7 linked regions of the Homo sapiens genome follow. The protein of the gene in region 1 interacts with the protein of each later gene in a biochemical or structural test. Each region holds a gene or a part of one and is shown in the gene's direction. Other genes may lie near its edges. The genes, in order: CNKSR1, RALBP1, ILKAP, G6PC3, DGKZ, DOCK4 and PTPRR.

Region 1 (3,500 bases):
TGGCAGCTGCCTGGCAAGAACCTGCTCCAGCTCTGCCCCCAAAGCCTCGAGGCTCTGGCTGTGCGGTCTCTGGGACACCAGGAGCTCATCCTGGGCGGGGTGGAACAGCTCCAGGCCCTGGTGAGTGAATGCTGGTCACACTGGCTGCAGCTTCCACCAACCTGGGGGGTGTGATGGGGGGCTGGCTGCTGCCAGGGAGGTGACTTGCCCTCTTTCTGGCACAGAGCTCCAGGCTACAGACAGAGAACCTGCAAAGCCTGACAGAGGGACTTCTGGGGGCAACCCATGACTTCCAGAGCATAGTCCAAGGCTGCCTGGGGGACTGTGCCAAGACCCCTATTGATGTCCTCTGTGCAGCTGTGGAGCTGTTGCATGAAGCTGACGCCCTCCTCTTCTGGCTCAGCAGGTACCCGGGTTGGGGTGACGAGTGAGGGACTATTGTCATCCTTGGCCTCCTTCAGGGCGTGGGAGAGAAAAACAGATCTTGGCTCTTGTTCAGATATGGTGAGCCAGGCGTGGTGGCTTAGGTCTGTAATCCCAGCACTTTGGGAGGCCGAAGCGGGCAGATCACTTGAGGTCAGGAGTTGGAGACCAGCCTGGCCAACATGGTGAAACCCCATCTTTACCAAAAATATACAAAATTAGCCAGGTGTGGTGGTGCGCACCTGTAATCCCAGCTACTGGGGAGGCTGAGGCAGGAGAATCACTCAAACCTGGGAGGTGGAAGTTCCAGTGAGCCGAGATCATGCCACTGTACTCCAGCCTGGGCGACAGAGTGAGACTCCCTCTCAAAAAAAAAAAAAAAAAAAAAAAAGATATGGTGGAGCAGGGCAGAGGGATTAATCCACCTGTGCAGGGGCACTGGGATGCCAGAGTTCCCACCCCACCCTCCAGCTTGTAATAATCGATCTCATCAACAACCACTGAATGGAGAGCCTCCCCAACCCTGTGCACTGGCTGCTGCTTGTCCTACAGACCCCACCTCAAATGTCATCTCGGGGAAGCCTTCCCTGTTGTACACTCTCCAAGCTATACTATTAATAAATAATAAATAATAACTTATTATAAACTCATTATCCAATGTTTCATGATACTCATTACAGCCAAAGTTAAATTGATATTGATGTATGATGTCTTTACTGTCTGTTTCCCCAGTGCCTAGAACAGGGCTTGGCATGTGGTAGGCACATGACAAATAAGTCCTGTGCTAATCTCTTTAGATGTCTCAATCATCTCCTTTACTCTAAACCAAAACCCATCAGAGCAGGTATTATCCCCAAGTCTCTGAGGTGAGTAATTGGTGAGTAATTGGCTCTGAGTGGTTAAGCATAGTCCCTTAACCACTGTGCTATTCTTCCCCTGCCAGGTACCTCTTCTCCCACTTAAATGATTTCTCAGCATGCCAGGAGATCCGAGACTTGTTGGAGGAGCTGAGCCAGGTCTTGCATGAGGTAGGAGAACCAAGGGCCAGGCTTGGCCCATGCCCTAGAGACCAAGCTGGGCTAGAGCTTTTTATAACCTGTGAATCAGCCCAGGATCGAGTATGAGGATTGAGACGGGCGAGAAAGGAGGAGAGGAGGCCCTGCCACTGGGTATGGGACAATGGGGCCTGGGGTCCCCTAGCTGGCAGGGGAATTTTGACACTCAGGACAGGGAAGGAGGGGAGGGCACGTGTGGTGACTTCTGGGGGCCTGGTATCAGGGAAACGAGCCCTCTGGTTAAAACGCTGAGGCCCTGTGGTTCTGGGCAGGGGGCCAGTGTAGGGAAGGCAGGGAGGGACTGTACGGAATCCCACCCTGCCCCCAGGAGAAGGCAGTCCCCTTATGGCCCTTGCTCAGGGGAGGCCCCTGCTCTCTCATTCTACTTCCAGGATGGTCCAGCGGCTGAGAAGGAGGGCACAGTCCTGAGGATCGTGAGTCTGTGGGGTGGGAAGAGAGTGGGGGTAGGGGCGATCGGGCTCAGGCTACATAGCCCGCTCCCCTCCCCCAGTGCAGCCACGTGGCTGGGATCTGCCACAACATCCTGGTCTGCTGCCCCAAGGAGCTGCTGGAACAGAAGGCCGTGCTCGAGCAGGTGCAGCTGGACAGTCCATTGGTGAGCCCTGCCCTCCCACCTCTCACTTCTGACCCCTTGGCAGCCTTGTCTGGGCCCTGAAATAGGGTCCAGGATCCCACAGAACCCTGTGCTGCCATGGCTGGAAAGCCTTTTTTGTACAGATGCTAAAATGGAGGCCCAGAGGATTGGCCAGGGTCTCCCGTTGCTCTGCACCTCCCCAGTCCTGAGGGGCCACGCGGGTGTGGCCTCAGGTAGTGTGTTCCAGCCTTGGGATGGAGACGGGGCAGGGGCTTGGGGGCAGTTAGGAGAAAGGGAGAGGATGTGACCTTTCTTGGTTTAATCTTTGACCAGTGGGGAAGACCAGAGCCCTATCCCTGCCCTGTCCCTGCTTGTCCCTTTAGGAATGTTGCTGAGAAGCTGGTACCTCAGAAATCAGGGTCTCCAGCTTCCCTCTGGCTCTTAGCAGAGGAGAAGGCAGAGGCCCACAGGAGTAGCAAGTCCAAAGTCATACAGCAAGTCTGGGCAGGACCAGCTTGGGGTCAGCTCTTGCCACAGTTCCACCCACCATAGAGTCCTGGTGTCTGGCGGGGGTCCTGCCTATTGGCCCTGTTGCCCCCCAGCCCCCGGTGACTATAGCCTCTGCCTCTGCAGGGCCTAGAAATTCACACCACCAGCAATTGCCAGCACTTTGTGTCCCAAGTGGACACCCAGGTGAGAGCCCCACACCCTTCTCAGCCGCCCATCCCCGAGGCCTCTCACCTGCAAGCCAGGCCAACCTCAGGCCCCATTCCCCACGTCAGGTTCCCACTGACTCCCGACTGCAGATCCAGCCTGGAGACGAGGTTGTCCAGATCAACGAGCAGGTGGTGGTGCGTGAGGAGAGGGACATGGTAGGAGGTGAAGGGGTCACCGAGTGGAACCCAAGTCTGGTGGGTGGGGAGGCAACCAAGGGTTCTGACCAGGGTTGTGGGAGCTGCCTTCCAGGAGATGAGCCAGCTAAGTCTGGTGAGAGCATCCTCTGCAGAGCCCAGGTGATGGGGCCCATGGAAGCCCCCAGGAGGCTGCATGAGTGGGAGGCAGAAGTGGGAGGCTGAGAGAGAGCTCCCAGCACGAGGGTGAGAGTTGGTGGTTGCTTTAGAGCCTCCTGCCCAGGTTGATACCAGCCAGTGTTTCTGTCCCCCAGGTGGGATGGCCCCGTAAGAACATGGTGAGGGAACTGCTGCGGGAGCCAGCCGGACTCAGCTTAGTGCTGAAGAAGATCCCGATACCGGAGACCCCCCCACAGGTACCTTCCCCTGCCGCCCCCCGACCTGCCTTCAGACCCCCCCCTCCACAGGTACCTGCCCCCACCACCCCCACACCTGCCTTCAGACCCCCCCCAACAGGCACCTTCCCCTGCTGCGCCCCCCTAGCTCCCTTCAGACCCCCCCACAGGTACCTGCTCC
Region 2 (3,500 bases), on another chromosome or scaffold:
AATCTTATGTAATGTTTGCAAATCATTTGCTTTAGTTTCCTTTTGTTCAATAAGCAAAACGATTTTAGAAACCCATACTTTATTTTTTTTGTTCCAGCTCTGTTCAGATTAAGGTTATACTTAAAATAATCCAAACTTTAAAATAGAAATTAGATGGGGATGATTTAATGGAGAATAATTTTCAAAGTGTTTGTTTGGGTAGCTAATTCACCCTTTGCAATTACAGTACAATATTTACACATAAAAAAGTAATTTACCCACAACTTTTTGGAACATACTTAGGTACACCAAGCCACATTTTTTTGTGGTCAGTCTTGTGACTTGTTAGAAAAAGCAGCTGGCTGCCTGTGTAGAGCCAGACTTACACTTGGATTGTAGTTTAATTTTTGTCTTTTTACCTTTTTTTTTATTTTTTTGAGACAGAGTTTCACTTTTCACCCAGGCTGGAATACAGTAGTGTGACCTCGGCTCACTGCAACCTCCACCTCCTGGGTTCAAGCGATTCTCCTGCCTCAGCCTCCTGAGTAGCTGGGAGTACAGGCACCCGCCACAATGCCCAGCTAATTTTTGTATTTTTAGTAGAGACAGGGTTTCACCATGTTGGCCAGGCTGGTCTTGAACTCCCTACCTCAGGTGATCCACCTACCTCGGCCTCCCAAAGTACTGGGATTACAGGTGTGCGCCACTGTGTAATGTTTTTACATTAAAAACAAATTCCTGAATTAATGGGCATATTTGCTTAATATATCCATGGTTGCTTTGACTTCTGACTGTTGAGCTTTTCAATTATCATTTAACTTTTGGTTAAATTCACTTTTGAAGTTAGTTTTTTGGGTTTGTTTTTTGTTTTTTGTTTTTAGATGGAGTCTTGCTCTGTCACCCAAGCTGAAGTGCAGTGGTGTGATCTCGGCTCACTGCAACCTCTGCCTCCCAGGTTCAAGTGATTCTCCTGCCTCAGCCTCCCAAGTAGCTGGGATTACAGGCGCACACCACCACGCCTGGCTAATTTTTGTATTTTTAGTAGAGACAGGTTTTTGCCATGTTAGCCAGGCTGGTGTTGGACTCCTGACCTCAAATAATCCTCCTGCCTTGGCCTCCCAAAGTGCTGGGATTACAGGTGTGATCCATGGTGCCTGGCCTGTTTTTAATTATTTTTTTTATTTTTTGAGACAGTGTCTTACTCTGTTGCCCAGGCTGGAGTCCAGTGGTGCAATTATGGCTCACTGCAGACTCAACCTCCCAGGATCAAGTGATCCTCCCAACTCAGCCTCCCAAAGAACTTGGACCACAGGCGCACGCCACCATGCCCAGCTAATTTTTGTATTTTTTGTAGAGATAGGTTTTGACCATGTTGTCCAGCTAGTCTCGAATTCCTGGGCTCAAGCTATCTGCCCGCCTCAGCCTTCCAAAGTGCTGGGATTATGGGTGTGAGCCACTGCGCCCAGCCAAGTGTAGTCTTACATGTTAGTGTTTACAGAGGAACTGTACGACCTTTGTGCAGATAAATATTTCATAACAAGAGGTTCGTTATTGGTCAGGTTGCTGTTCTCATCTCCTTAGCAAGGGTGGGGATAATGGTAAAGAAAACTTGTGTGTTTGATTTTCTTTTCTCAGTATCTTCTCTCTTCTGAATTTGAATGTTTTAAGGAATTAAATCAAAGGTGGATGAGCTAAAAGCAGCCTATGACCGGGAGGAGTCTACAAACTTGGAAGACTATGAGCCTAACACTGTAGCCAGTTTGCTGAAGCAGTATTTGCGAGACCTTCCAGAGAATTTGCTTACCAAAGAGCTTATGCCCAGATTTGAAGAGGCTTGTGGGAGGACCACGGAGACTGAGAAAGTGCAGGAATTCCAGCGTTTACTCAAAGAACTGCCAGAATGTAACTATCTTCTGATTTCTTGGCTCATTGTGCACATGGACCATGTCATTGCAAAGGAACTGGAAACAAAAATGAATATACAGAACATTTCTATAGTGCTCAGCCCAACTGTGCAGGTACATGGTCTTCTCTACACATATACCCTCTGGTACTGACATTGGGGAACTGGGGTAATTTTCTATTGCTGAGTCACATGTAAAGCAGTGAACTTGAGGAGATAGGTAATGGATTAGCTTGAATACGGGTCTTTTCCTTTCATAATTTGGACAGTGTCAATGTATAAGATAACATACTTGCCCTTTAGCTTGTAGTGATGTAATTTGAATGCGGTACAGTCTTTGATGTGGGTTTATAAACAAGACCTGATGACAAGGATCCTTCATTAGGGGAGGAGGAGCCCATGGCATCTACAGTTATAGAGTTCGTGTGTAGAATTTTAGAGATCCCAGTTATTTAATCAATAGCATTATTGCTTCGTTAGATCACAGACACACATCAAACTCAGGCACAAAGGGACCTGTCATTAATTGTTTGGTCAAAGATTTAGCCTGAGGATTTCATTCATAAGGATGGATCCTAGAGAGACATGTTATAGGCTCTGAATCTGAAAAGGAACTTCAGGGAATTGGGTAGTGTGTTAATTGGTATCTTTTTACGACATACATACTTGGCTTTCCTTTATTGCTGCTCAGTTGGTGCTGTCATAGAGTATATGTTTTCTTTTAATTGCAGTTAATGATATTTTACTCAGGCCAATAAAAAGGGAGATGATAGGTTATATTTATTATCTTAAGCCCTCTTTTTGGCCAGTATTCTGAGTCACCATAAATCACTGTCACTGTTATTAGAGAGTGTTTTCATTTACTAAAGAGCGTTTCAGTCAGGCGCGGTGGCTCACACCTTTAATGCGAGCACTTTAGGAGGCTGTGGCAGGAGGATAGCGAGAGGCCAGGAGTTCAGCCTAGGCAACATAGCAAGACCCTGTCTCTACATAAAAATTAAAAATTAGCTGGGTGTGGTAGCATGTATGTGTAGTCCCAGTTACTTCGGAGGCTGAGGTAGGAGGATTGCTTGAGCCCAGCAGTGAGCTATGATCATGCCACTGTACTCCTCTCTGGGTGACAGAGCAAGATTTTATCTCTAAAAAATAAAGATTCTTCTGTTACTCATTGATTACGCTTTGAAAGCAAAATGTTTCTCAGATTTTAGTTTGATCATTAGGATTTCAGGATCTGGTAAATATTACATTGATACTTAATATTACTATAATATAATAGAGATGGTTGTATCATAGAAGAGTCAAGTGTGTTGTAAGAGTAAGTTTTAGGTAGGAAATAATTTCTTGTAGTAGCTTTTCAGCCAACCTAATGCCCTGGCCTCCTAGCATATGAACATCCATACTTAAATGCTGGCTGTGTCCAGGTATTTGTTTCTGGAGTGAGGGCTTTCAACCTCAACCCAGCTTTACTACTGTGGTGCTCCCACTTCCCTCATGGTCCTCATTCATTCCATTGCGTCTGTTAAAATATGTCAAAGTAAGTTGAAAATAAAGAATATAAGATGTTTTAGCCGGGCATGGTGGCTCACGCCTGTAATCGCAGCACTTTGGGAGGCTGAGG
Region 3 (3,500 bases), on another chromosome or scaffold:
AGTTTGACTCAGGGCCTGGATCTTAACTTTATGTTCTCTCACTGTGGGACCCCCCTCCCCCTCCCCGCCAACCATGAAGACACAACTCCTGGGTCTGCCTGTGTCTGCCAGTCCTTGCTTCAAATGACCTTGTCTTTGAGTGCTAGGATGAAGCCCAGTCTACTAGTGACTTTTTCCAACAGTCTACAGCTGTGTTTCTGTCTGGCTTTTACTTTATTTCCAGGTTCTCTTGCCACATCAATATCCCAGATGGTAAAGACTGAAGGGAAAGGAGCAAAGAGAAAAACCTCCGAGGAAGAGAAGAATGGCAGTGAAGAGCTTGTGGAAAAGAAAGTTTGTAAAGGTTTTCAGACAATTTGAAAACAAATGTATTAGACTTCATATTTTAAAACAACCCAGAGCAAAACCAGTTTCAGCTTTCTAATAATACTTTCTTTTTATGTCTGTATTTAAGAAATAAGTAGGGTTCCCTTTTTGCAAATGAATTTCCAAGTTTCTCTGTGCTTTCTCCTACTTTTCATGTACATCTATCTCTGATCCTACCTTTGATCAGATAGGAAACCTACATTTGTTCCTCAAGAGTTAAAAAATACAGGTGGTTTTTTTCTTAGCCTTCTGCAGTGAATGGTTAGTTTTTTGACCACCTAGTCTCTCTCTGACTTCCAATCTTTGTTTGCAGTTTGTCAATTAGTGCTTTGAATTACGTGATTTAGCTTAGTAGGCAGCTTCCCTAAGCCTGGAAAAAGCCGTTGAAATTTGTAGTCAGTTGTGTAACTTGTCAAAGTTAGTGAGGAAGAAAACGAAAAGTATTAACTAAAGAGAATACTTCAGTTGTGGTACTAAAGTATTCTTGAGCTGTGGGATTTTCTTTTTTTCTCTTTTTTTTGAGACAGAGTCTCGCTCTGTCGCCCAGGCTGGAGTGGCACCATCTCGGCTCACTGCAAGCTCCGCCTCCCGGGTTCATACCATTCTACCTCAGCCTCCCGAGTAGCTGGGACTACAGACGCCTGCCACCACGCCTGGCTAGTTTTTTGTATTTTTAGTAGAGACGGGGTTTCACCATGTTAGCCAGGATGCTCTCGATCTCCTGACTTTGTGATCTGCCCGCCTCGGCTTCCCAGAGTGCTGGGATTACAGGCGTGAGCAACCGTGCCTGGCCCGAGCTGTGGGATTTTCATTGACTGCATTGTCCTTTGTCACAGATTACCTCAGTGAAAGCTGTATGATGCAGGCAGAGGTATGTGAAAAAACCCACTTGTAGCTTTGCTGGGAAGATGTCATCTTCAACTTAGCTTGTCACTTCCCAGAAGACAGCTCTTCACAGTGTTCATTTTATTATTTGTCTGGCATTAGGTATCAGAAAATAAGCTTAAATGAGTCTAACCATTAAATGTAAATAGATCTCTGCCTGCATTGGAATCTTTTATCCTTTTCTTCCTCAGTTGAAGTAAAAGCAGCTGATCTTACTGTTTGTTCAAATTCTTCACCAGCCTTGAGCATGGAAATACATATTTTCAGGGCATCTTAAGGGCTTTTGAGATAAACTCTCCTGACTTGCATTTGTCCTTATTCAATTATCACAAGACTAATTTGCACATGATCCTTTTGCCTGATTTGAATCTCACTTCTCTGGGATGGCAGCACATCCCTTGCCCTGATGCTTTGACTTACACCCTAGACAGAGTTGTTTTGTGCTCACTGACTCCTCTTTTGTGTCCCTGTGCAACCTCTTAGAGCTCACCCTGTCCAACAGTGCTCCGATTTGAGTTATAGACTTGCAGCTGGGGGAGATGCCTTAAGGGGTATTGCTTATTTGTTTGCGCCATTAGGATATTGCTGAGTCAGACAGTCATAGTTCCCTCTCATTTGCTCTGGGACTAGGGTTTCCAGAGGGTTGGGCACAGTTTTGTATTGGCTCTTTTGTTCTCTTTTCCTTAGCCTCTTCGGTGATCTTTGGTCTGAAGGGCTATGTGGCTGAGCGGAAGGGTGAGAGGGAGGAGATGCAGGATGCCCACGTCATCCTGAACGACATCACCGAGGAGTGTAGGCCCCCATCGTCCCTCATGTGAGTCTCATGTGGTAGGAAGCCCGGCTGGCATTAACATCTCCTGGGTTCTGACTGGCATTTTGGACTGGCTAGTTTGTATTTACTAGAAAATCTAACACATCACTTGATTGTACATCAGTGATTCTCAGCTGGGGTTGATTTTGCTCCCCGCCCAGGGGACATTTGTCAGTGTTTGGGTACATTTTTGTCACAACTGCGGGAGGGAGTTGTTACTGGCATCTGGTGGGTAGAGACTAGGGATGCTGGTAAACATCTTAGAAGCACAGGGCAGCCCCACAACAAAGAATTGTTCAGCCTGGAATGTCAGTAGTGTCGCGGTTGAGCAGCCCTGCTGAGCGGGAGATGACGCTTCATAGCATGGCTCTGCAGCGTGTGTTACTCCTTACCAGCAACTGAGCGGCTTCTGGCAGAGAATATTTTTAATCCATGACCTAGAAGATAAGAGTTGGAAGCCACTAATTAAAGTATGAATGGTGATCAAGCAGAGCTAGTACAGATAATCAGGGCCCAGGAAGAACAAAAGTCAAAATGATGTCAAGGAAAAGACAGACAATGAAAAATTAGCTGCAACTATACAAACTAAAATGAAGCCTTCTGGATAAGCTCTTGGGCCTGGAAAAAAACCAGAAGGTAGGACATTAAGTTGGCTGTAAACATACATTATAGTACATATTACATAGGTTACATAATTCAGAATTACATAATAAATACATTACGTACCTTTACTGACACCAGTTGGTCATTAACATACAGTGTGCTGGAGCCGTTTGGGCTGATGGCGTTTGTCCAGTAGATGAGGTCTGCTCATGGAGATGAGGTGATGGCTGCTGCAGAGCAGCTGATCATATGTAGAGGGGACGAGATACACACCCATTGAGACAGGGTCTTGCTGTCTTGCTCAGGCTGGAGTACAGTGGCACAATCATAGTTCATTGCAGGCTTGACCTCCTAGGCTCAAGCAGTCCTCCCACCTCAGCGTCCTGAGTAGCTGGGACCATAGGCATGTGCCACCACAGCCGGCTAATTTTTTGAATTTTTTGTAGAGACAGTGTCTCCTTAAGTTGCTCAGGCTTGTCTCAGAGTCCTGGGCTCAAGCCATCTTCCCACCTTGGTCTCCCAAAGTGCCAGGATTACTCGCATGAGCCACCATACCCAGCCTGGGATTTGCATTAAAACCAGGAAAGGGACCTCTGGAGCCCAAGAAGGCAGATCCATTGAGTGTAAATTTAATTGGGAACACTACATCATGCCTTGCAAATAACAGGCAGTAAGAACAGCTCTGAGTTATAAACCAGATGAGGTTTTTTTTCTCATGGCTCAGGATGTCCTAAATTGAAAAGGAATTCCAAAAAACTTGAAAGAAAAGCAGCTCTCTAGAATAAATGTCATTTCTCGTGGGCATTTTTGTTTTTTTTTTTTCCTTGAAATAGTT
Region 4 (3,964 bases), on another chromosome or scaffold:
CTGGCCTTCCAAAGTGCTGGGATTACAGGGGTGAGCCACTGTGCCCAGCACCTTTTTTATTTTTTATTTTTTTTTATTTTTTGAGATAGAGTCTCGCCCTGTCGCCCAGGCTGGAGTGCAGTGGTCCCATCTCGGCTCACCGCAACCTCCGCCTCCCGGGTTCAAGCGATTCTCCTGCTTCAGCCTCCCTAGTAGCTGAGACTACAGGCGCGTGCCCCCACGCCCAGCTAATTTTTGTATTTTTAGTAGAGATGGGGTTTAACTATGTTGGCCAGGCTGGTCTGGAACTCCTGACCTTGTGATCCGACCGCCTCGGCCTCCCAAAGTGCTGGGATTACAGGTGTGAGTCGCCGCGCCCGGCAAAAAAAAAAAAAAAAAAAAAACTTTTCAAGAACAAAGTTGATTGAGGTAGGAAGAAACTAAGGAGACACTGTTCAACAGTATTCTAGGCAGGACCTCGCCTAGAATAGCTGAGATTTCTATTTTCTATGTGAGTTCCCCCAGATGACTGTTTCAAACTCTGTCGCGGGTGTGTGCCAATCCTCTTCCCATACCAACACTGTTACTATCTCTTGGTTTCATCTGCCTAAGCAGGGTTTTGGATGGCAGGAGGATGGGGGTGGGGGAAGCAAGGGAAGAACTGGAAGGAAGTGTGACTTTGCGCTATATGTGAGAATTCGCCTTTTTAGGGAAGACCCCTCAAAATCAAGAGACTTATCTGTCAGCCTCCAGATTAATAGCAGGCGAATTAGAAAGGGGGAGTCTTGAGGCTGGGGAGGAAGGAGTGAACTGATTAGGGGTGTATGCAAATTTAGGATCCCGCTTCAGCTCCCAGGAGGAGGGGCTGTCTGCAGCCTTTTCTCCAAAGGATCTCAGATTTATTTATTTTTTTGCTGTTTGTTTTTTTTTTTTTTTTTTTGGTGGGTATTGGTGCTGGAGAAGAGAGGTCCGGTGGGGAAAGAATCCCGGCCCTGGAGATTATATATCCGCCTTCGCATCAGCGGAGCAGGGACGCTGGGAGCGCGCGCGGCCCGCCGGCTAGTCAGTCCCCTGACCCGGAACCGCACTGGTGCCGCCGCTAGCCGGCTGCCCACGTGCCTGCAACAGTGGCCACGTGGGGCCCTGAGGAAACGCCTTTACAAAGGTTTGTCCCCTGCGCTGCCCAGTAGGGAGGAAAACCGGAGGAGAGCGCAGGAGGAAACAGTACCGGCTGGAGGCCGGTCTTGCAGGAGCGGGGGACTGCTGGGGGCGGGGCTTGGTGGTGACCGCTGGCGGGGCGGGGCCTGGGGCTCAGAGGGGTGGGCTTTGGAGATCAGAGGGTCGACGCTGCTTCGTTGCCTGGACTCTGGTTTCCGCCCTGGAGCAAGCCGGGGCCTGGTCGGCAGCTGGGCCGCCATGGAGTCCACGCTGGGCGCGGGCATCGTGATAGCCGAGGCGCTACAGAACCAGCTAGCCTGGCTGGAGAACGTGTGGCTCTGGATCACCTTTCTGGGCGATCCCAAGATCCTCTTTCTGTTCTACTTCCCCGCGGCCTACTACGCCTCCCGCCGTGTGGGCATCGCGGTGCTCTGGATCAGCCTCATCACCGAGTGGCTCAACCTCATCTTCAAGTGGTGAGACAGAGAAGCCCTCCGGCATCCTGGTCCCCACCCCCGAGGGCCCTGAGTCATGTGTAAGCCCTGGTCTCTTTCAGCAACTGTCTCAAGGGCCTTCCCACCCCTACTCTGTAGTCCCTGATTTTTTTTCCCCTTGAGCATCTTTGTGCAGCTTGGACTCAAACCTCAGAGTCCAACCATCCTACTCATTAGACCAGTGTTCTTCAAACTGGTCTGATGGAAAAATCACCTAAGGGGCGTGTCTAAAATGTAAATATCCCATCCTCATCTCACACTTACTAATTTAGAAACTCCAAGGGGTTGGGAATTTATTTTTTATTTTTTATTTTTGGTTTATGGGAATTCATATTTTAACAAATATGGTGATTTAAGTAGTGGAGAGTCCTACCTCTCAACTCACTTTTTCATTCATGTATTCATTCATTTGCTATAATTTTTCAGAAGCATGCTTTGTGCTGGGCATCACGGTAGCTGCTAAGGACAGAGACACCTTGCAGATTAAGGTGTGGTCCCTGGACCATGCCCAACGGCATAGGCAGCACTTGAAAACTGGCTAAAAACGCAGACTCTCAGGCCCCGGGCCAGAGCTACTGAATCAAAATCTGCATTTTAACAAGGTTCCCAGGTGATTCCCTGTGCGTATGCAGTAAAGTTTGGGCTAAAGCACTGCTTTCCAGGGAACACTTTCTCTTCTTTCTCTTTCATTCACCAGTAGACTCTTCACACTGAGACTTAGAAGCCAGGAATCCCAGGGACATGGGTGGAGGCCCTGTGGCCCCTGGGGCTGGGCATGCAGCCACACCTCCCTTCACCTCAGCCTCTGTTGCCAGATCCTCAGCCTGGGGGAAGGAAGGGAGGCTCATAGGAGGTATTTCAATGAGCTGGAATGACTTGCTGAAAAACAACATAGAGTTCCCCTCCCTTCCACTCTTTTCCACGAGGGCCTCATCCTTATGTAAAGGGAACCACAGTGATCTGTTCACTTCTTTCTTGCCTAATTGCCCTTTGCTTTGTGCTCTCCTCTCTCAAAGTCTGTATAAGCCTCCCCCTCTATTCCTTGTCCCCCAAAGATCACAATCTCCTTCAGACACTATTAATGTCCCCCAAGTGGCAAAGTCCCTATTCATTTTCATTTTCTCTTTTTTTTTTTTTTTTTTTTTTGAGACGGAGTCTCGCTCAGTTGCCCAGGCTGGAGTGCAGTGGTGCAATCTTGGCTCACTGCAAACTCCGTCTCCCGGCTTCATGCCATTCTCCTGCCTCAGCCTCCCAAGTAGCTGGGATCACAGGCGTGTGCCACCACACTCGGCTAATTTTTGTATTTTTAGTAGAGAAGGGGTTTCGCCTTGTTGGCCAGGCTGGTCTCAAACTCCTGACCTCAGGTGATCCGCCCGCTTCAGCCTCCCAAAGTGCTGGGATTATAGGCGTGAGCAACCTGGCATTCTTTTTTTTTTTTTTTTTATTCTTTTTGAGATGGAGTCTTGCTCTGTTGCCCAGGCTGGCGTGCAATGGCATGATCTTGGCTCACTGAAACCTCTTTGTCTCTCAGGTTCAAGAGATTCTTCTGCCTCAGCCTCCCCAGTAGCTGTGATTATCGGCACCCACCACCACGCCCGGCTAATTTTTTATTTCTAGTAGAGACAGGGTTTCACCTTGTTGGTCAGGCTGGTCTCAAACTCCTGGCCTCAAGTGATCCACCCTCCTCTGCCTCCCAAAGTGCTGGGATTACAGGCGTGAGCCACCGCGCCTGGCACCGCCGTTCATTTTCTGTGTGAGCACTTGTTGTATATATACTAGGCTCAGTTTTCAGAGGGGAGAGGCAAGTGCCTTCTGTATATCCCTCCCCAGCACGTGGCTTCCTGCCAGCATCTCTTTTGCTATCCCATCTTTTCTCTTTCTGGCCACAGCAGCCTCTTCATTGTGTGGTTCCCAGGGCCCAGCCAAGCACTTGCTAGACCAGAGGATTTTGACATTTTTTTGTCCTCCTTATTCTTTCTCAGCCTTCTCTGTCCATTTCCCACCCCCATTTTCAGACCTGAGAGGCTCACCTAAATAATTTAGGTGTGGATAATTCAGGCTGTAACTGGGGACATGGAGGCAGGGGTAGCAGGAGGGTTAGTGAGGGCCTGGAGGAGAGAGCTGGGTCCTGGACTCTCTGTGGATGATAAGAGCTGGCCTTGCAGTGAGAGGGGGTAGAGTGGGACGGCTGAGTATCTCAGAGCACACACACGGCTTACCACAATCTCTTGCCTCTGTATCAGTTTTATTTTTTATTTTATTCACTTTTTCTTTTTTTGAGACAGGATCTCACTCCATCACCAGGCTGGAGTACAATGGCACAATCACAGCTC
Region 5 (3,500 bases), on another chromosome or scaffold:
AGCCCGGCCCCTCGCTCTCCTCAGTACCACAGCAAGGTGTCCTGCTTCATGCTGCAGCAGATCGAGGAGCCGTGCTCGCTGGGGGTCCACGCAGCCGTGGTCATCCCGCCCACCTGGATCCTCCGCGCCCGGAGGCCCCAGGTGAGTACTGCCTGCACCCTTGATGCCCCGTACGCACTTGGGGTCTGCCAGCTACCCCAGCCTGCCCACCTCGTCACCAACACCCCTGCTTCCCTTGCAGAATACTCTGAAAGCAAGCAAGAAGAAGAAGAGGGCATCCTTCAAGAGGAAGTCCAGCAAGAAAGGGCCTGAGGTCAGCCCCAGGCTGGGCAGAGGCTGCAGGGGAGCAGGAGAGAGGGGTCTGTTGCTCAGGGTACAGAACTTCCACCCCCAGCTAATGCTGCCAGCTGGTGGGGGTCTGTGTGGGCTCTGGGGCCTCTGAGGAAGGCAGGATTAGATGCCAGTTTCTGCTCTGTGGCCTGGTAAGATCTGGCCCAGAGATGGTACGTGAGGGTACAAAGAGGGAACAAAGTCACCCAGGGGGCCTGCTAAGGATGATGGTAGGGTGTCCTGGACGGGAAGGAGCTTACAGCCTCTCACCTTGTCTCCCAGGAGGGCCGCTGGAGACCCTTCATCATCAGGCCCACCCCCTCCCCGCTCATGAAGCCCCTGCTGGTGTTTGTGAACCCCAAGAGTGGGGGCAACCAGGTGAACGCGGCCTTGCCTCTCAGCTAAGGGCTCGGGCGGGGGTTGGGGTCCAGCCCGTCTGCCAGCAGCTGTTCCCAGAGCCCGTTTCTGGCTTCTACCCCAATCCCTCTTTCCCAGGGATCCTGAGAAAATCCTGTCCTTTCTCCACCCCTCACCCCTTATTGGCCCTGGTTCCCACAGTCACACCCCTCTCCCTCTGCTGCTCCCACTTCGTCCCACCACTGCCTGACTGTCTCTTGGCTCCCCATCCCATCCAGGGTGCAAAGATCATCCAGTCTTTCCTCTGGTATCTCAATCCCCGACAAGTCTTCGACCTGAGCCAGGGAGGGCCCAAGGAGGCGTAAGTACTTGCCAAGGTTTTGTGGGGGACATGGGGGGGAACTTGCCTCACTCCTGGGGTACAGCACACATCCCCTGACCCCACTGCCATCTTCCCATGAGCCCAGGCTGGAGATGTACCGCAAAGTGCACAACCTGCGGATCCTGGCGTGCGGGGGCGACGGCACGGTGAGCTCCCCGCATGGGCCAGCCGAGCACCAGGGCTGGGCCTGAAGCCGGGGTCCCTGTGGGCCTGATTTGCCTCTGTTCTTCCTCCCCCAGGTGGGCTGGATCCTCTCCACCCTGGACCAGCTACGCCTGAAGCCGCCACCCCCTGTTGCCATCCTGCCCCTGGGTACTGGCAACGACTTGGCCCGAACCCTCAACTGGGGTGGGGTAAGCACCCATAGGAGGGGGGTGCAGCTGGGGCCTCTCCAGCCACAGAGGGCTCAGTCCCTGCCTGCTCCCCCAGGGCTACACAGATGAGCCTGTGTCCAAGATCCTCTCCCACGTGGAGGAGGGGAACGTGGTACAGCTGGACCGCTGGGACCTCCACGCTGAGCCCAACCCCGAGGCAGGGCCTGAGGACCGAGATGAAGGCGCCACCGACCGGGTAAGTTGGCCAGGGTTGGTGGGGGGCAGGGCAGGTGACTGGGGACTGGATCCCACTTTTCCACTTGCTGGTTCTGGGACCTCGGGCGTGTCTCTTCATTTCTCCAACTTCCACTTCTTCCTTGTACGATGGGAATAATAGTACTTGCCTCACAAGATGCTGTTTTTTCTGTGTTTTTTTTTTGTTTTTTTTTTTTTTTTTTTGAGACTGAGTCTCGCTCTGTTACCCAGGCTGGAGTGCAGTGGCGCAATCCCAGCTCACTGCAACCTCCGCCTCCCAGGTTCAAGCGATTCTCCTGCCTCAGCCTCCTGAGTAGCTGGGATTATAGGCAGGTGCCACCACACCTGGCTAATTTTTGTTTTTCTGTTTTCTTTTTTTTTTCTTGTTTTTTTTTTTGTTTTTGTTTTTTGTTTTTTGTGACAGAGTCTCACTGTCACCCAGGCTGGAGTACAGTGGCACAGTCTTGGCTCACTGCAACCTCTGCCTCCCGGGCTCAAGCTATTCTCCTCCGTCAGCCTCCTGAGTAGCTGGGACTACAGGCACCCGCCACCACACCCGGCTAATTTTTGTATTTTTAGTAGAGATGGGGTCTCACCATGTTGGTCAGCCTGGTTTTGAACTCCTGACCTCAGGTGATCCATCTGCCTCGGCCTCCCAAAGCACTGGGATTACAGGCATGAGCCACCACGCCTGGTCAGAAGATGCTGCTTTATTCCATAGACATGCACTGAGCGCCTGCTACCTGCCAGGCACTTCTCTAAGCAGTGAGCAAAACCAAGCCTCGCTGTTGTGCTCCACATGGCATGTCAGGAAGAAGTGTTAGGGGAGCTGACAGGGAAGAGATGCTGCAGGCACGCAGGGAAATCCCCCAGGAGCCACCAGGCAGAGCAGGGCTGTGCCTGACAGCGGGTGAGCTGGGCTGAGCCCTAGCGGACGCTGCTGACCAGGAAAAGCCTGTGAACAGATGGGCTGAGCTGGCTCGGCCACACGAGGCCCCTGGAGCGGGGACATTTGTGAGGCCCAGCCCTCATTTTGGTCCCTTGACCTTTTTCCAGTTGCCCCTGGATGTCTTCAACAACTACTTCAGCCTGGGCTTTGACGCCCACGTCACCCTGGAGTTCCACGAGTCTCGAGGTTGGCAGCCTCCCACTGAGGCCAGGGCAGGGTGGGCACAGGAGTGTCCCCGGGAGGGTCAGACCCTGCTCCCGCCAGTGAAGGCATCCATCCCAGCCCTCCCCCAACCCCACCTGGGCAGGCTGGGGTGACTCACTGGCCCCCACTGCTTGTCTCCACCCAGAGGCCAACCCAGAGAAATTCAACAGCCGCTTTCGGAATAAGATGTTCTACGCCGGGGTGAGTGGGGTCTGCACCCCCGCCTGTGCCCACCTCTTCTACCACCCGTGCCCGTGCCCACCTGTGTCCACCAGGCCCCAGGAGCCCTGCCGGGTGCTGGTGAGGAAAGATCTCTGTCAGCAGATGGTGACGCCCTCTGTCTCCCACAGACAGCTTTCTCTGACTTCCTGATGGGCAGCTCCAAGGACCTGGCCAAGCACATCCGAGTGGTGGTGAGCGGGGCCAGGCTGCCGTGGGTGGGTGGGCCGGAAGGGAGGGAGGCGGAGGCCACCTGGCACATGCACCTCAACACCCTCCCCGCCCGCCTCCAGTGTGATGGAATGGACTTGACTCCCAAGATCCAGGACCTGAAACCCCAGTGTGTTGTTTTCCTGAACATCCCCAGGTGAGGAGGGGGCTACCGGAGCTGGGGGGAGCCCTGCTGTCCTTGTCCTGCAGAGACTGTGTTTTGAGGCCCATGTCATCGCCCGCCTTTGCAGGTACTGTGCGGGCACCATGCCCTGGGGCC
Region 6 (3,500 bases), on another chromosome or scaffold:
AGCTAAAAATGTTTGAATAGCTATAAAATAGTCTTAGCAAGCTGGTATATACTGTCTCTCAGCAGACCTGTGTACATTTTTACTGGCCATATGCAGTTCGAAGCCATGTCTTTATATGTAGGGTTTGAAGGAAGAGAACATAGATCGAACATTTGTGTTATACCTCCTGGGTTACATTAGGGGGCACACTGCTACCATGTTACTAGCCTTGCAGTGTGCTGCCTTAACTGATAAGAGTTTAGTGGGGTTTTGGGTTTTTTTTTTACCCCAGCCAGCCATCAAACTGTGGGTCTAACCCTACAGCGAAGACTGAGCTGACCTGCCATATTTTGAATTTCAGGTCTAACTTTTGACAGAGGTAGCAGTGAATTGGGAACTCTTAATTGGCCTTAATGTTAGGCTCCTACTAAATGACAGGATGTGTATCTACCAGCGTTATTTTGTTTACAAAGAGAAACCAAAGTCAAGTTAGCTTAAGAAGATAGCATTTCTCAAAGTGTATACCATAGAACACTAGTTTTCCAGGACATTATGTAATAAGCGGGGGAGAAAAGGTCTATAGTCAAGTAAGTTTGGAAAACACTGGACTGAACAAAATTATTTGTATTCCTTTATTCTAAGCCTTGAAAATGCGAATATGTTTTGAATATACACAAGGAGTATACAGTGTGCAGCATTTCCCAGCGGAACCCTCTTTTCACAGAGCATCTATCTTAGGACTCGTTTTCCTTGGGATACTAGTTGGGAAAGTAACAAACTCAGATGCCAAATGGGGCCAGACAGCTGACACAAATGAAGGAGGCCGGGTGTAGTCCCCACGTGGCATAGTGGGGACTGGCAAAGTGAAAAGGGACAGCCCTTCTCAGCTTTTAAAGATTATCTCTATTAAGAGAATGTGTGCCATTGTGGCCAGAACTCCTAGTTCTTTATGAACTGCCAGAATTCTGGAGTTTCATGTGAAATTTGAAATGTTAAAAATTAACTAAATTAGGTTTTTAAAAAACTGCTGAGGAAACAGCTCACATCACAGGCTACAGCCCCGAGGGCTGCCAGTTCGCCAGTTCAGCTCAGGAGTCTGGAGTCTGGAGTGATGGCTGGAGAAATCAGGTGCAGAACCTCGGGTGCCTCTGCTCCTCCTCCTGAGCTCTCTGGGTCTTCTGAGCTGAGTGTGCTCAGCGGCCCTGGCTCCTGGCCTGCAGCATGCCCTGCTGAGCTGGGAAAGTGAATAGCGCCCCCAAAGGTTTTATGGCGTTTTTAGGTTTTTGGGGTTTTTGGCCAGTTCCCTCTCTTCCAAACTATAGGACTAATGTGTGCCTCCAGATTATCTTGGTGGATACCTTTATTTATTTTTTGAGACAGGGTCTCATTGTGTTGCCCAGGCTGGAGTGCACTGGTGGCTCCACGGCTCACTGCAGTCTCAACCTCCCAAGGTTCAGGTGATCCTCCCAGAGGAACTGGGATTACAGGCATGAGCCACCACGCCCAGCTAACCCTTTGGATTTTTAGTAGAAATGGGGTTTTGCCATGTTGCCCAGGCTGGTCTCAAGCTCCTGGCCTCAAGTGATCCCTGCATCGGCCTTCTAAAGTATTGGGATTACAGGCGTGAGCCACCATGCCCAGCTCCTTTCTCCTCTATCTGAAAATGATAAGGAGTAAACTGGGCGGTGAACTGAACTCGAGGACTGGTGGCCCTCGCAGATAAACGTCTGGTGTGCATTTTCAGTGCTACAAAGGACAACACTCAAATTTGAGTGTGAGTGTATTCGTCTGCTCGGGCTTCCCTCACAAAATACCACAAACTGGGTGGCTTAGACACTGGGAATGTATTTTCTCAATTCTGGCAGGTAGAAGTCCAGGATCAATGCGTGGCAGCCTTGGTTTCCCCGAGGCCTCCCTCCTGGGCTTGCAGACCGCCCTTCCTGCAAGGTCTGTGTGTGTCGCATTCCTGACGTCTCCCTGTGTGTCCAAATGTCTCTTATAAGGACACCAGTCAGCTTGGATTAGGATCCACCATAATGGCCTTTTACCTTAATCACCTCCTTAAAGGCTGCATCTCCTGCTGCAGCCGGCTTTGGGGGTGCTGGGGGCCGGGGCCTCCGCGTCGGGGCGTACATTTCAGCGCATCTGCGTTCACGACTCAATGCTGTGTCTCCCTCTCGTTTCCTTCTCCCCGGAGCAGGGCTCTGTGCAGTCTTTCACCCCCTCTCCAGTGGAGTACCACTCGCCAGGACTCATCTCCAACTCCCCTGTCTTGTCGGGCAGCTACAGCAGTGGGATTTCTTCTCTCAGCCGGTGCAGCACGTCGGAAACCTCAGGCTTTGAAAATCAGGTGAATGAACAGTCGGCCCCCCTGCCGGTGCCAGTGCCGGTGCCCGTGCCGAGCTACGGCGGGGAGGAGCCAGTGCGCAAGGAGAGCAAGACTCCGCCCCCGTACAGCGTCTACGAGCGGACTCTGCGGCGCCCCGTCCCGCTACCTCACAGCCTCTCCATCCCCGTCACGTCGGAGCCGCCCGCGCTGCCCCCCAAGCCTCTGGCAGCGCGATCCAGCCACCTGGAGAATGGGGCCCGGAGGACTGACCCCGGCCCGCGGCCCAGGCCCCTGCCCCGCAAGGTCTCTCAGTTATAAGTCACTTTTCTATGTACCTGCGATGCATTCTTTGCCCGTTTACAAAATAAGAAGTATGATGAGAAGACATTTAGTGTAGGCACTTTAATAACTTACTCAGCTCCTTCGATGAATGGAATTAAAACTTGCTTATTAAATATCATGTTGCACAATATTAAAAGTTGCTGATCTAAAACGCCAGATGTTAAATGAAGTATGGCTGAATTTCATTAAAACGTTTCTCATTTGGAAGTGGTAAATAGTGATAAAGACTCCTTTTGTACCTTTTTATGTTCACTTTTTTTTATATAGTTTAATCTTAAAACCAATACGATATTGTCAAACGATACAATGTGTGACAATGTTGTATCGTTTTTACTGAATACTTGATACTTGGAGAAAGCTTATTAAGTCAGTGCACATCCTAACACAGTGGTCCTTATTTTAGAAGACTTCTGTAAATAAGGCAAGGTTTATCAGTGCAGATCATCAGAATTAAAGTTCAAGCAGGCGAGCAAGACAGTATACTTAAGGGGTTGCAAAGCTTGGGACTGGAAATTGTTTTGTTCTTGAAACAAAATACTTCTTTAAGGTTGCTTTTGCTGTTTGACTGCTGTCTACATTCGTAAAATTCTATTTTGTGAATTGGTAGCTAAATCCCTTACTACCCTGACACCGTGGTATCTACTGTATTTCTTTTCAAGGTGCAATTTGCTTCAGAGTTCCAATCAGCTAGATTAAGCAAGAGGCTCCAGAAGAAATGTTTACTTGAATTTTGCGCTTCCTTTCTTGATAGTTTCCTATATAAAATTTGTCATTGAACAAGAGCAAATGCTGAAGTATTAATGAGGCACAAATGACTGTGCCCCATTAGCAAGAATTCAGGAATCAATAC
Region 7 (3,500 bases), on another chromosome or scaffold:
GTGGGGGCCAGAAGGAGAATCAAGGGAAGAAAAAAGATCACAAAAATATGAGCTGGCGGCCGGGCGCAGTGGCTCACGCCTATAATCCCAGGACTTTGGGAGGCCAAGGTGGGCAGATCACCTGAGGTCAGGAGTTCAAGACCAGTCTGGCCAACATGGTGAAACCCCGTCTCTACTAAAAATACAAAAATTAGCTGGGCGTGATGGTGCACACCTGTAATCTCAGCTACTTGGGAGGCTGAGGCGGGAGAATCGCTTGAACCCGGGAGGTGGAGGTTGCAGTAAGCTGACATTGTGCCACTGCACTCCAACCTGAGTGATAGAATGAGACTCCATCACAAAAAAAAAAAAAAAAAAAAAAAAAAAAAAAAAAAGAATTTGCATTGCTTTGTGTTACATCCTACTTTTGCTGTAAACCACCAGTTACAAAGCACTGGTTAATGTCCAGAATCTTTTCAGTCAGAGTTTGATAATAACTTGTTTGCACAAGAGACACTGTCCTCTGGAAACCTATTTTTTTCTTCCAAATTATGGATTCTTAGAATTAATAGATAATTTTACTGAAAGGATAAGCCTAGCTAGCAAAAGAATAGTGATGATTTGGGGTTATATTCTGCTAAATAGCATGCTATTTTGAATCACCTACAATTAGTGTGGTTTCACAGTATTATCTGTAAGGCAGCATTTTTCTTCCCTGCCTTTTCTGCCTCTTTTATCTCATTGTTAGCACCACAATAAAGAAACCCTAAAAAGCTGTACAGGAAAATAATTTGAACATGAACTTGTACTCTTAGAAACAACTGCATTTGCAGCTGTCCCCCACCTCATATTCAAAAGTACCCACACTTATCTGGTCTCTTTTTCTGTCATCTAAATGAGGGAAAAATGTATTCAGTGTGTAAAAATAAGCTATTGTATCTCAGAAAGGAGATGGGATGCTAATTAAGGGTTGTTTGAATGAACAAGTCACATTGCATTGTCTACTGGGAGCTGACTGCCAATTGCTTTTTTGGTAACGAGTCAAAAAAAACATTCAAGAGGGCCCCCGGCAAGCTTGGGAGAGAAGCGAGCAGCATTTCCATTTATCAAGTAGGTGCAGAAGCCTGTGCAAGTATTAAGAGTCAGGGTGCAGGCGGCAAGCTCCTGCTTTGCAGCTTTTCTTACTGGTTTTGAGAGCCACCTTCCTAAAGAGGGCCCTGCTGCTCAGGTCTGATCGTGGACAATGGGGCACGTACGCCAGACTGCTGGACTACTGAATGAATGCCTCTTTCTTTGTTCAATACCTTTTCCAAGATTCTTTGTCATTCTTCTTGGACTCATCGGGAGGCATGGGTTTTAAGATACACAGTAGCTCGGGTCTTACAGCGAAATAATTGATGCTTCATTGAAAGAAACCAGGCAAATTGGTTTGTATGATTACCTTTAACAAAGTGGGAAAATTTTAGACATTTGGCAACTCATAGATTTCGAGAGAAATGAGTTGCTCTACTTTAAAAAGGTTTCTTCTCTTAATGTTAACATTAAGTCAGCCAGAGTAAGTCTTTTGGTCTGATAGCCTGAGAGTCTCAGGTGGCATGTAAATAAAGCTGAAACAATTTACTTCATTTAGAAAAAGGGTCAAAATGTAGAGGATGTAAATGTGTTTTTATTGTAATGGATGAAAGAAACTGATTCTGCTAGGTGAAGTGACTTCCTTCGCTGTGCTAGCTTGTAGAGTAGTGGTACTTAGCATAATAGAGCCCTGGAGGTGTGTTTCTGATACTTTGTGTCACTTTTCCTTCAGTTCTATAATTTTGTGAGTCTTTTGCTGCTCTTTTAAATCTATAAGTATTTAAATTTTTATCAAGTGTATTCATATGCCTTTGACAAAGATGTGAAGAAACAAGTGTCCTGGGTATTAAAAGGTTCTGATTGAAGGCAACAAATGAAAGAATTTCTATGTAAATGTATGTATGGTTGGGAGAAAATAAGTGCTATTTAAACATTTCTAAAATTAACATTGCTTCCAAGAGCACTCAAAATAAAACATAAACATTTGTCATTTTACATTCTTTATCATCAAAATTTGTGGTAAAAAATAGTTATTTTACAGTTGTTTAAAAAGCAAAATGAGATTATATGTATGCTTGAATCTCATTTTGCAATTTTTATTTAATAATGATAACTGACTATAATAATACCAAAATAATATTTAATGCATGAAGATCTAATCACTTTGGGCCAAAAACCTATCACCCAGTAGTTTTAAAATAACAACAGCAATAATAACATGTTGTAAGTGCTTACTCTATGCCTGGCTTTATCCTAAGTACTTTCCAGATAGCCAATAATAAAGAAACTATAACCAAAGGGTTTAAGTATCTTGTTCGTGGATTCACAGGTAATGAATGGTAGAACCAAAATTTGGACTCAGGTTCCGAGTTCAAAGCCTGCGCCTTAACCACCATGCTATGTTGCCTTGCTTGCAGTATAATTATTGTCACTCTTTTAAAGCTCCTCAGGAGGATCCATTATAAAAATATTTTTAACGTAATTTTTGTAAATTAGTTCCATAAGTGAAAAAAACTGTTGGTCCGGGAAAATATAATACCATAGTTGTATTAATGATCATTATATCTGCCTTACATATAAAGGAAACTTGGTTGTATGCCACCTAACATATTAGATATTCTCATTAGACATAAGTTTGTTGAAGCAGGAAAATGTAACTTTCCTCAATTATTGTGGGAAAACATTCTTTTATTTCTAGTCAGCACATGATAAATTCTAATATTTGGATCTCAATTTCTTAACTCTTAAATTTCTTAACTTCTTAATTAGTTCTTAATTTCTCTGAGGAGTTTTGGGTAATTCTGCCTTTTTTTTTTGTATGGAGCCAGCAGTGACAGTGTTTAATAGGCACATATGAAACTGATACTTTAAAAAAAACTGTTGAGATATAATTTATATACCATAAAATCTAGCTGCTTAAGATTTACAATTCAATGGTTTTAGTATATTTACAAAACTATAAAAATTGATATTTGATATTTTAAAACTAATGATATAAAACTCTTGAGATGCTTGAATGAAAAGTACTCCATGGCTAATAAAAGCCATTAATATTTGCTGTATTCTCTTTCCCTTCCTCCAGAAATGTGTGCTATACTGGCCGGAAAAGAGAGGGATATATGGAAAAGTTGAGGTTCTGGTTATCAGTGTAAATGAATGTGATAACTACACCATTCGAAACCTTGTCTTAAAGGTAAGATTATGTAGCTATAGCCATCTACAAAGTAGATGATGTTAGAGGATTACATTTCTACTTTGAAATTATTTAAGTACTACAAATGCAATTTAAGCAAATTAAATAATGTTAAGATCAAAGAGAAACTATAATCATTCCCTCATGTATTTTTTGTTGTCAACTACTATTAATATGCAGTATAATTAAATGAATGTAAGTAGACATTAAGAAAATTCATTATGTAGGATGTTGTGATCCTCTAATTTGCGTTAAT

What was found.
Region 2: the proteins of CNKSR1 (region 1) and RALBP1 interact in a test that uses a peptide from one of them, tested with the Homo sapiens proteins (one large-scale study listed by IntAct).
Region 3: the proteins of CNKSR1 (region 1) and ILKAP form a complex in vitro, tested with the Homo sapiens proteins (one large-scale study listed by BioGRID).
Region 4: the proteins of CNKSR1 (region 1) and G6PC3 form a complex in vitro, tested with the Homo sapiens proteins (one large-scale study listed by BioGRID).
Region 5: the proteins of CNKSR1 (region 1) and DGKZ interact in a test that uses a peptide from one of them, tested with the Homo sapiens proteins (one large-scale study listed by IntAct).
Region 6: the proteins of CNKSR1 (region 1) and DOCK4 interact in a test that uses a peptide from one of them, tested with the Homo sapiens proteins (one large-scale study listed by IntAct).
Region 7: the proteins of CNKSR1 (region 1) and PTPRR form a complex in vitro, tested with the Homo sapiens proteins (one large-scale study listed by BioGRID).

The regions. Positions count from the first base shown.
Region 1 is NC_000001.11:26,180,491-26,183,990, forward strand, and holds part of CNKSR1 (connector enhancer of kinase suppressor of ras 1), read left to right. Parts: coding exon 1-120; intron 121-224; coding exon 225-406; intron 407-1,366; coding exon 1,367-1,451; intron 1,452-1,870; coding exon 1,871-1,912; intron 1,913-1,989; coding exon 1,990-2,094; intron 2,095-2,706; coding exon 2,707-2,766; intron 2,767-2,855; coding exon 2,856-2,924; coding exon of another isoform or gene 2,925-2,945; intron 2,946-3,238; coding exon 3,239-3,340; intron 3,341-3,500. UniProt on the Homo sapiens protein: May function as an adapter protein or regulator of Ras signaling pathways.
Region 2 is NC_000018.10:9,520,513-9,524,012, forward strand, and holds part of RALBP1 (ralA-binding protein 1), read left to right. Parts: intron 1-1,647; coding exon 1,648-1,997; intron 1,998-3,500. UniProt on the Homo sapiens protein: Multifunctional protein that functions as a downstream effector of RALA and RALB. As a GTPase-activating protein/GAP can inactivate CDC42 and RAC1 by stimulating their GTPase activity.
Region 3 is NC_000002.12:238,186,696-238,190,195, reverse strand, and holds part of ILKAP (integrin-linked kinase-associated serine/threonine phosphatase 2C), read left to right. Parts: intron 1-223; coding exon 224-343; intron 344-1,938; coding exon 1,939-2,065; intron 2,066-3,500. UniProt on the Homo sapiens protein: Protein phosphatase that may play a role in regulation of cell cycle progression via dephosphorylation of its substrates whose appropriate phosphorylation states might be crucial for cell proliferation.
Region 4 is NC_000017.11:44,069,571-44,073,534, forward strand, and holds the start of G6PC3 (glucose-6-phosphatase 3), read left to right. Parts: upstream 1-1,164; 5' UTR 1,165-1,395; coding exon 1,396-1,613; exon of another isoform or gene 1,614-1,672; intron 1,673-2,057; exon of another isoform or gene 2,058-2,251; intron 2,252-3,964. UniProt on the Homo sapiens protein: Hydrolyzes glucose-6-phosphate to glucose in the endoplasmic reticulum. May form with the glucose-6-phosphate transporter (SLC37A4/G6PT) a ubiquitously expressed complex responsible for glucose production through glycogenolysis and gluconeogenesis.
Region 5 is NC_000011.10:46,371,463-46,374,962, forward strand, and holds part of DGKZ (diacylglycerol kinase zeta), read left to right. Parts: intron 1-24; coding exon 25-141; intron 142-241; coding exon 242-313; intron 314-612; coding exon 613-708; intron 709-965; coding exon 966-1,048; intron 1,049-1,154; coding exon 1,155-1,215; intron 1,216-1,308; coding exon 1,309-1,422; intron 1,423-1,498; coding exon 1,499-1,639; intron 1,640-2,694; coding exon 2,695-2,773; intron 2,774-2,936; coding exon 2,937-2,992; intron 2,993-3,141; coding exon 3,142-3,204; intron 3,205-3,303; coding exon 3,304-3,377; intron 3,378-3,471; coding exon 3,472-3,500. UniProt on the Homo sapiens protein: Diacylglycerol kinase that converts diacylglycerol/DAG into phosphatidic acid/phosphatidate/PA and regulates the respective levels of these two bioactive lipids.
Region 6 is NC_000007.14:111,727,400-111,730,899, reverse strand, and holds part of DOCK4 (dedicator of cytokinesis protein 4), read left to right. Parts: intron 1-2,179; coding exon 2,180-2,626; 3' UTR 2,627-3,500. UniProt on the Homo sapiens protein: Functions as a guanine nucleotide exchange factor (GEF) that promotes the exchange of GDP to GTP, converting inactive GDP-bound small GTPases into their active GTP-bound form. Involved in regulation of adherens junction between cells.
Region 7 is NC_000012.12:70,662,239-70,665,738, reverse strand, and holds part of PTPRR (receptor-type tyrosine-protein phosphatase R isoform 1 precursor), read left to right. Parts: intron 1-3,133; coding exon 3,134-3,244; intron 3,245-3,500. UniProt on the Homo sapiens protein: Sequesters mitogen-activated protein kinases (MAPKs) such as MAPK1, MAPK3 and MAPK14 in the cytoplasm in an inactive form.